Homo sapiens: one gene and its partners. The protein of the gene in region 3 purifies or fractionates together with the protein of the main gene of each other region. This does not show direct contact. Each region holds a gene or a part of one and is shown on either strand. Other genes may lie near its edges. The genes, in order: JMY, BAHCC1 and CPNE4.

Region 1 (3,656 bases), on a different chromosome or scaffold from region 3:
TTCTTCTAAGAGCTTCATGGATGCTCCGTGTTAGAGGGTCTGTATCGGGTAGAAGTGTGAAGGATTCTCTCAAAACATCCTTCTGTACCTTCTTCAATTTTACCCCTTTCCTTATTTGTGCCAAGATATTATTACTATCATCTTCATCAGGAAAAGGAGGCAGAGTTCGCTGTTCAACCTTTTTCAGATGAAAACTACCACGCTTCAAGGAGGCTAGCACCTCATCCATGGGTGAGCTCACTTTGGAAAATGAAACAGAACAGTATTACAGTTAGGACTGCACTTAATTAGAATGAAACTGTATAACCTCTACCGTTCGCAACTGTGAAAGCACAGGACGCTGAAACACCATCTTCAAAATGGATCATGAAATGTGTGCAGAAGGTGATCAGAACACAAGGGATCCTAATTATCCTTCTTTTTAGAAAATCCCAAGACCCAATCCATGGTGGGTACTGTTGGTATTCCTATCATTTCCTACATGAGAGAAGTGACCAGATTGGGAACTGGGAGGTGGTCTTAGTAGTATTATGGGTGTGATTCCCAAAGGATTTCCATATTGCAGTTGCTCCACCCAAATTCAGAGTGATGGGGTTACACATTTTGTTTTTAAAAATTAATTTTTGTTTATTATGGAGACTGTGCTTTTTTCATTTAGTTGTTTTACATGTGAAATCCTACTCAGATTACATCAAGAAATGTTTTATAGAATGGTCCTTCAGGTTAAAATGTAATATACAAGTAATATGTAACATTTATATAATGTTCTCCCCATGCAAAATGCAAATTCCTTAAAGGCAAAAGGCAAGGGTTATTCTCTGCTCTTTTTAGAAATAATTTTATTTGTGCTTGAATCTCTCTTAACAAAAAAAATTAGAAAAAAAAATAGTAACCTTATTGAGGCACATCTGTCACATTGTAAGTTGAACAGATTACTCCCTGTTCTTCTTTGCTTCTTTATACAAATACACAAAAGTCCTCAACAAATGTATGAACAAATGTTACATGATCCTGCCAATGTCTTCCCTGTGGTGACAGTCCTTACCAGATATCTTACCCTTTCTGATATGAGTATTTTTTTAAAAATCTCAGGTTTAAAATCAAAACTTTTTCCCTAACACAAAAGGAGCCACCCATTATACATTACCAAACATGAATGTATCACTTTAGAAGATCTGTTTTTAAAACATGCCTAACAGCCCAAGAAGGCATACATTTCTGTGTACTTTATGCACTAAGAATTCTCCTCTAGTGTGACTTTGAAAACCTGTTTACTATCAAATAATGTCAAAAATAAAGTGTTTTAAGCTTTGCAACGTCAAAAAATATAGTTTTTTACTATGCCTGATGTCATACAACAGATGGACCATGAAAATATGTTGACGTACCTCTCCTCCTCTGCAAACCTTCAGCAGTCTTTCTGAGCTTCTTCCGTGCACTGACCAGCTGGCTGCTGTCAAAGAGGTGTGCTGAGGGGGCACTGGCTGACTTTGGGATCCTCTTCTCATTCCCCTCCTTTCTAGGCAGATCTTTCTCCAGTGTCTCTGGGCCACTGTCCTTAGCAACAGGCAGAGGTGGTGGTGGTGGGGGAGGGGGAGGAGGTGGGGGAGGTGGTGGTGTTGGAGGAAGAGGGGATGGGAGTGGATTTATGGTAACAGAACATGGTTCGAGGTTGTTATTCAAAAGTGGAAGAGATATAGTGGGAGGCAGTTCAGAGGTAACACCACTGAGAGGTAATGAGGTGGCTTCAAGTTGTGTTAATGAAGTATCTTCAAGTTGCACAAGGCTCTGGGGTTCTGTTGTCTGTGATGGCCCACGCTTGACTCTTCCTTCTCCCACCTCTTCAGTTTTCTCTTCTACCTGTAACACACTTGGTAAAGAGTCACAATGATCCTCTTGGAGAACAGGACTTGCTGCACCTTTTCTTCTTGCATGAGCTAGTCGTAATCTGGTTGATTTAAGTATGACTTGCCCAGGATACCTCTAAAATACCAGAAGTTATTGGAACTGGTTAAATGTTATTGAAACAATTTATGAGCACATGCCTATTTATTTTCTCCTTCAAATAAAAGATGTTATGTGGCCGGGTGTGGTGGCTCACGCCTGTAATCCCAGCACTTTGGGAGGCCGAGGCGGGTGGATCACCTGAGATCAGGAGTTTGAGACCAGCCTGGCCGACATGGTGAAACCCCGTCACTACTAAAAATACAAAAATTAGCTGGGTGTGGTGGCAGGCACCTGTAGTCCCAGCTACTCAGGAGGCTGAGGCAGGAGAATTGCTTGAACCCGGGAGGCGGAAGTTGCAGTGAGCCGAGATTGTGCCACCGCACTCCAGCCTGAGTGACAGAGTGAGATTCCATCTCAAAAATGTTATGTTGGCTTATTGGTTATTTCACCCTTAAAGTTATACAGAAAATCCGAAAGTACCTAATAATAGCTTACAAACAATTATGAATTTATTATTTGCCTATCAAATCCACGATTGATAATTCAAATATTCAAAATTATGATTAAAAAAAGATTTTTAGTGAATAAAACTACTAAATGTATAAAACAAATAGCATGTAAAATGCAAAACATAAGTGATGTCAAATGTATAAATGCTACTGGTATGCAAAAAGTTTCCTATGTTTTCAAATGCACACACGAGAAAATTAAAATATTCTTTAACAGGTTACTTGGCATTTTTAAAAAGCTCCATCAACTATATATCCATTTTATGACAGAATGAAGAGAGAAATACATTTTTTTCAGTACTTACTGGTAGAACTCTTATATATATTTTACCATGGTAAGACCTTTTGTTTGTTTGTTTGTTTTTGAGACAGGGTCTCACTCTGTTGCCCAGACTGGAGTGCAGTGGTATGATCACAGCTCACTGCAGCCATGACCTCCCTGGCTCAGGTAATCCTCCCACTTCAGCCACCCAAATGGCCGGAACCACAGGCATGTTCCACCATGCCAGGCTAATTTGTATAGAGACAGGGTTTCGCCATGTTACCCAGGCTGGTCTTGAACTCCCCGGCTCAAGCAATCCACCTGCCTCAGCCTCATAAAGTGCTGGGATTACAGGCGTGAGCCACATTTACTTAATAACAAGGCTTTTCCCCTGCCTCACCTCCTTTTTTTCCACTGTAACACTTGTTCAAAAGCCTACTTCACCTACAAAGTGATCCTTCAGCATGCATAACTGAAGTAAGGCTCCAGAGTACTTTAAAAATGAGAACTGTGAGGCTTCAGCACAGTTCTGAGGAGATGTGTGGATACTGTGGTATCAGTGTGTGGTCATGGCTTACCCTGGCAAGAGAACTGCTGAAGCATTTCTCAAATATGCTGCTCCCCTCCACCTCTAATTCTGCCAATGGTCATTTGATGTATTACCACCACAGGCTGATGTATGTGGAATAAATAACATGCTGATGCTTGAGCTGGATAGTCAGTTGTGATTTAACTAATTTTTTAAACTCAAGAGGAATCTAGGTTTCCCAGAGGCCCTTATCATTCCTCTTATACTACTGAAGCTGTGGGTCAAAGGTCACAAGAATACTAAATTCGGAAAACCACCAGAGGAAATGGAGCCATGCCATTAAAACAATTTTAAAAAGGACTTCCATGGTTATAATAGTTTATAAATAAGGGAAAACCAAGTTTTTCCC
Region 2 (2,844 bases), on a different chromosome or scaffold from region 3:
AGGACCATGTTTCCTGGCCTTGGACGCAGCTGTGACCAGGCACTCAGGGCCCACTGGGACAGATGTGCACCGACTTCATGCAGCTTCCCAAGATCCCGGCGGCAGAGGGGGAACAAGGAGGGTCCCCTACCCCCTGCAAGCATCCGGCTTCCTCTGGGTCTGCAGCCTCATGAACAGGGCTCTCTCCAGCTGGGGGTGCACTCATCTGTGTTCCCACACCCGGGCCGTGGGCCGCCCCTCCCAGGATGGTCATTCACGTCTGAGACCCTGCCCAGCGTGGCGGCTCGGAGACTGCTCTTGCCCTTCGTCCTCTCCAGTGGAACCTACTCTGGCCCTGGACTGGTTCAGGCTGGACAGGGACTGTGAGAGCAACCAGGAAAGGGGCCCTCCTCCTGGAGGGACCCCACCCCTAAGACCACTCTGAGCCCATTCCGGTCACATGACCCTTTCCTGGCCTGAGGGGCTTCACTTGGGCCAACACAGGGGGCGGTGGGGAGGCCTGGCCCAGAAGCCCCAGCTCTGGGAACGAGAGGCTTCTGCTGAGCCCCCGGAGCCCTGGGGAACCCCCAGGAGTACCGTGGGACACAGGACCCTGGACCACCGAAAACCTGTACAATAGTCCATATATTTATTCTTAAGCAAGTTATCAATAAAAAATTTGATACTAAAATGCCTTTACATAGAGTCTGCTGTTCATAAAACCTTTGTGTGTTTTTTTGTCCATTTTGTTTTTAGTGTTTACATTGAAAAAAAATCCAACCATCCCCTTAGTTTACACATTTACAGGAATCGTGCCTTCGTCACGTTAACCACGGTGAGAGGGGAGGGGCCGCACCATTCGCACGCACACAGAAAAAGAAAGGAAAAAACCAGGGACAAAGCGGAACCCAGCAGAAGCGGGACGAGGACGAGGCGGCGGAGCAGAGGATCCAACCTCCGTGGCTGCACCCTCCTCGGCCCTCTCTGGAACTCCAGTGGCTCAGCATGCCCCCGTGCATTTTTCTTCACTTGACATCGTTCTGATCCCCGAGCCTCAAGCAGGACCTCGTCCAACCACCTCCCCAGACAACCACCGGGAATGAAATATTGCACTCATGCGAGACAAAGGGTAGGCTCGGGGGTGGGAGCGGGGGGCTGGAGGCGGGGACCCCCGACCACAACATAAGCCCCCAGCCTTGAGCCTCCTGGGGAGCCTCTGGGAACGGCCCTTCAGGGGGTCCAGCCAGCAGGTGAGAAACAGGCCCCAATGGGCCCGAGAAAAATAGGGGGCCAAGGGGACCTGGGATTGGGGTACAGGGCACCCACCAGCACCCTGCTTCGAGGCCTGTGGTGTGGGGGACACAGAGCTCGTCCTAGAGCAGTGGCTAACTTGGGGGGCTTTCCTGAAGCTCCCGTGGGGCCAGGGGAACCTTAGTGTGGGAGGATATAAGGAGTGTGTGGCCCCCCATGCGTTTCTGAGGCTGAAGGCTGTTGGGCTCAGGTCCAGGCAGCCTGTCTGTCCTTGGCTGTGGGAGAAGGGGAGGGGTGTGAATTCCCTGGGGATACTGGGGCAGAGCCCTCGAGGGGTGCTGCTTGCACCTGGGGCCAGGATTTGGGCTCAGGTGGTCAGGGGGACCCTCATTCTATGCCCCAAGCACTAGCCCATCAGGCCATCTGCCCCACCAAGTGGCACAGAAAAGGCCGAGAAACCTCCAAAGGGGTTGGGGCAGGCAGAGGGGTCCGAGGGCCAGGCAGATTTGGCTGGTGGAAAAGGGGGCCCAGAAAGGGGCCTTCCCCAAGGGCAGGGCCTGCGTTTTATTTTCTTCTCCCCTGGCCACAGCACTGCTGGCCTGGCCTCACCACCATCTACGCAGCAGGCCAGGGGTTTGGGGGCACCAATAAGGTGGGTGGGAAAAGGGGTGTCTTTTGCATGCATTCTGCTTGGGGGTGAGGAGAGAATCTGGTGGGACTGTGAACCTGCCCTCATAGGCCCCGAGCCCTGCCCAGTTCAGGAACCTGGCCAAACTGCCCCTTCTCACGGCACCTACTACTTTCAGGAAAGTTAGGACCCCAGGGGTGAGGAGGGGCTCAGAGCTGGGCCCTGCTTCCCGAGTGTGCCAGGGCGGCGAGGGTGAGGGGGGCGAGGGGCCAGCCCCTCCCTGCTCTGGGTGGAGGCCAGACTCCTTGGCCTCAGACCAACTGGCCCCGGAAACAGAAATCAGATATAGGTTGGAATATGATTCAGCAGATACAATCCAAACATTGCTTTTTCTTATCAATACTTTAAAATATTTGTTCGTCTTTGTCTTGTTTTGAACACAGGTGAGATGCTCACGGCTGTTGTCACACTCCCTGGTCTGGGCTTTGCCTCTTGAATCCTTTCCCCACGGGCCCCTCATCACCACCCCCTGCTCCAACACTTCTTTTCTAGGAGATGCACTGAAAGCAAATAAACTTGACCGACTTTCATCTTACACGGTCGTCCCCCCAAGAGATCAGAGGGTGCCGTCAAGGGTCCCACCTGACCCTCCCGTGGCCTCTGCCCCCTGCCCCGAGATGCCTCTGTCGTCCCAGGTGCCCCCGTTGGAACCCAGCTGGGCTGAGAACAGTGCATTTCCAAAGGAAACCCCAGGACAAAAATCGCCACACACGCGCACACACATACACGCTCACACACACCTTGTCACGCGGATGGGGAAAAACCCTTTTCCACTTTTTACCATAAAATTTCCCCGCAGAAATACAATATTTACATAGAGAAATAAATAGACAACACACCTGATTTCTGCTTTCCCTGGTGGGAGACAGTCGGAGGTACTAGGGAATATGGCTTGGATTCAAATCTCCCGTGAACTGCCGGTGCGG
Region 3 (3,656 bases):
AAGTCATGAGAGACCTAGACACCGATTAAAATTTAAAAAACAGGAAGAAAGAAGAATTACAACTTTAATCCAGTAAGAAGGCACTGGGGTTTAGAGTTTGCAAACAAATGCCCATTATATTCATTATGTGTTAAGCAGCAGGAACCATTTCAAGCCTTTACACAATCAATATGAGATGGAGGGTGAATTCTAAGCTCCCTGTGGAGTTGAGGTGACAGGAATATTTTCTAGAATCAGATAAATGCTGTCAGGAGGGGAGAATAAGGCTTATAAAAAAATCCAAGAAAAGATTTCAGAAAGATAACTTTGAATAGCTGCTAGTTAGAACTGGCCACAGACTGGAGGCTTAGATTTGGCTGAGCTCTATTTGGACCCAGTGATTAAAACAAAAATAAAAACAAAAAAACTCAATAACCCAAGCTGTCTGCTGAAGATAGCGATGGTTATAAAAGCTTCAGCTAAGCAGTTGACACTTAAGAATCATTAACATGATATGCAGAACTACAGGGCAGGAGGATTTTCACATACCTACAGGTAAAACAGACTGCACTCTACTTTTGGAAACATAGTAAAGTAATATACTTTGTAATATTTCAACACAAATTCCTCTACCTGGCAGAACCTATGCACAAGGTCAAATAACATATTGTTTACTTTTTTCTTTCCGAAAACCTGATAAAACAAGATAGATGTTCTGGCATCTGGACATTTTTATTGAATCATTTGGTATTTTATGGAGAATTTCATTTCAAAGGATATTTCCAAGCTCTGACTCTTTTGGGTATCCATAAATTAGGTCACTGTGTTAAAAGACACCTGTTTTCTTAGTGGGAGGTGATCGGTGATGCTCTCAGTGCTTATCCTAGTCCCTTGCTCTTAGCACTTCCAGGTAAGCCAGCTGACTTCAGTCATCTTATTTGCTTTGTTTACCTTAAGTTTTTTCTTGGCCTCCAGGGCCTGCCTTGCTTGCCCAAGTGACAGGCTAAAAGTGACCCTTGGGAGTAATCAGTAATTAACAGGAGGTGATGTATACATATCCCAGCTCCCTTATCCCTTGGGGTCCATGTGTGCTGTATATTGTCTCCTAGGGTTCTTCAGCAGAGTTAAGCACCAGTTGCCAACAGCGGTAACTGACTTGATAATATACTCTGTGCTGACTTCCACTTCCCAACCTCTATTGTGGTTTCCCTCACCTTTTAAATAAACTATTTGCATCCAAACCCTTGTCTCAAGATCTGTTTCTGAGAAAGTGCTAACTAAGAAAGAGAGGTGCTTGTGTTTCAGTTTCAATGCATACTTTCAGATTTTGTCCTAAGAAGTAAATTGTGGCAACCTTGTAAACTCTCCTGGGGGCACCTGAGCTGCTCAAATCATCAGTGCTTGTCTGAGGAATGGGAGAAATTAGGGGACCCGAAATGGGGAAATGTGAGAGATGCCTATTGAAACAAGAATAACCAGGGGATTTTGCTGACAGGAAGGATGGAGTTAGGGGATCAAGTGAACAAGAGGACTTCAGAAAACAGCAAGAAAGATTAGTTACTCCAGGAAGGGAACCAAAAAGATGTCATTAGTGAGAAAAAGGTATGGTGCATAGCTCTGTCCTCAGCCCTGTTGGGCCAACCTGAGGCTGGAAGACCACCTGGTGGGGATGTGGTGAAAACTCAAGAATCCCTGGGTAGTTGGGCTGATGGCTATTGAGCTATTCAGCAGCTCTATGAAGAAAGTGGGCATTCACCTGTTTACATTCCCGATTTGAAGGGGCCTATATCTCCTCAGCTCCAGCTTATTCTTGTATCGGTCATCTTTTAATCTTAGTGTTGCCAGGCCTTTCAGGTTTTCAAGAGAAACCAGAAATCTGACATTTTATATATGCAATTGCTGAATTCGTTTTTTAAAAGTGTGTCAAATATAACATATTTGTGGCCTGAATAATGTCTATAGGCCACCAGTTGATAACTCTTGTTCTATATTCTTTCTCTCCACAAGCTGTATTTCTAATAAATGCTTCTAGAATTATGTAGCTATGCCCAGCAGAAAGGCCAGTGTGGAATACAAGGCAAGAAAGAAGGAGAACAGGTCAGGGAGACAAGCGATTCCATCCACTATTCACTCTAGGAGCAACAGGGATATTGATTTCCTCTTTCAAAAAGGATACCTAAGGGGAAAGCCCTTTATATGATGGCTCTAGTGAGGGAGCAAATGTCAGCATCTACCTCCTCACCTGTGGCTCAGACACAGCCAGTAAAAGAGAAATTGAGGATTGGGCAGTGTTGTTTGTACTTAGCTCAGACCTCAGAGGCACTGGTAAGGTGGAGGCTGGGAGAGGTACCCTGCTGTCTCTCCAAGGCCCTGTCCACCTAGTGGGCACGAGTTCTCTGTGGAGAATGTTCTACAGGAGCATCTAGAATATCACAGTAGTGTCTCAGCCTCATTACAGTGCAAATTTATCTACACACAATCTTTGCCTTTTTTCTGTCATGAGAAATCATTATCAAAACCAAATAGGATTCCAACGTCTTCAGAAGAACATTTCAGCTTCCCAATTCTCTAAGTCATAATAGTTCTTTCTTCAAAACTTCTCTGTGTCTCCCATACAAGACTTGGACTCGGAGACTTGGGATAAGAAAGTCTGTAGACTCCATTGTCACGGACTTTCCCAGTTGGCATTGCCAATAGAATTCTATTTCCTAGGGGATATACGAGTGAATAGGTTCTGAGCCCCTGGAGATCAACTTCTTGAGTGTTTTCTCAGACTCTGACCACATTTATAAGAAACTAAACAATGAAACTCTTCATCTGGACCTCTGAGAAGACCCATCCAAAATACCAGGAGATAGGGTTTCATCAAGAGACGGGCCCTGGCGAGTTAATCTCACTGATTCTGAAGACAATTTCTGACTCTGTAGGCCCTACTGACACAGTTAGGTCAGAGTCAGGAGTGTGAGACTGCTGCAAAGAAGAGCCAAGTTATCCTTTGACCACAGTGAAGTGGAAGAAGATCACATCTCCACTCACTCACCGTGTACTCTGGAGGTATCCTGGCGCCAAACCCAAAGGCAGGGAACATTTTGTCACTGAAACCAAAATGAAGAAAAGAAAAAACAAGAAGTTGCTTCATTTATTCATTTAATGAGAAAGAAAAACATTAACCTACATTACTAGGTTGCTAGGCCATGTTGCTATGCCAGTGCTGACTCATGCTTCTTGATTGTCTGTGGTGATGGGGGTAGCAATAGCATGGATAATTAAAATCAAGAAACAGCCCCTTAAGTTCATTACAGTCATTAGTCTACAACTTCCTCCCTTAATTTTTTTGCTAGATTCTATACTAAGAAATAAAATGGCCCTACCCTTTCATCAATGGCCTCCACTTCAACTTTCAACTTTGTTTCCTTTGAAAAGTGACCATGAACTAGGTAACTGTAATGGTTGACTGTGTTAGAACCTTTTGTATGTATCATCTTTTAAAATACAAGGAGAGATAGTTATTCCCCTTCTGCAGGTGGGGAAATGCCTTGAGAGGTAAAGTGACTTGCCCAAGATCATGCCACTAATTAGAGCTAGAGTTCAAATACAGATAAGACTGAATCGAAATGGATATTAAAAAGCAATGGGGCCAGGTGCAGTGGCTCACTCCTGTAATCCCAGAACTTTGG

Evidence for each region.
Region 1: the proteins of CPNE4 (region 3) and JMY purify together in Homo sapiens (affinity purification with mass spectrometry; one large-scale study listed by BioGRID and IntAct). This does not show direct contact.
Region 2: the proteins of CPNE4 (region 3) and BAHCC1 purify together in Homo sapiens (affinity purification with mass spectrometry; 2 studies listed by BioGRID and IntAct, with this or other methods). This does not show direct contact.

The regions. Positions count from the first base shown.
Region 1 is NC_000005.10:79,312,584-79,316,239, reverse strand, and holds part of JMY (junction-mediating and -regulatory protein), read right to left. Parts: intron 1,984-3,656; coding exon 1,389-1,983; intron 241-1,388; coding exon 1-240. UniProt on the Homo sapiens protein: Acts both as a nuclear p53/TP53-cofactor and a cytoplasmic regulator of actin dynamics depending on conditions. In nucleus, acts as a cofactor that increases p53/TP53 response via its interaction with p300/EP300.
Region 2 is NC_000017.11:81,464,094-81,466,937, reverse strand, and holds the end of BAHCC1 (BAH and coiled-coil domain-containing protein 1), read right to left. Parts: 3' UTR 607-2,844; downstream 1-606.
Region 3 is NC_000003.12:131,552,478-131,556,133, forward strand, and holds part of CPNE4 (copine-4), read right to left. Parts: intron 3,075-3,656; coding exon 3,020-3,074; intron 15-3,019; coding exon 1-14.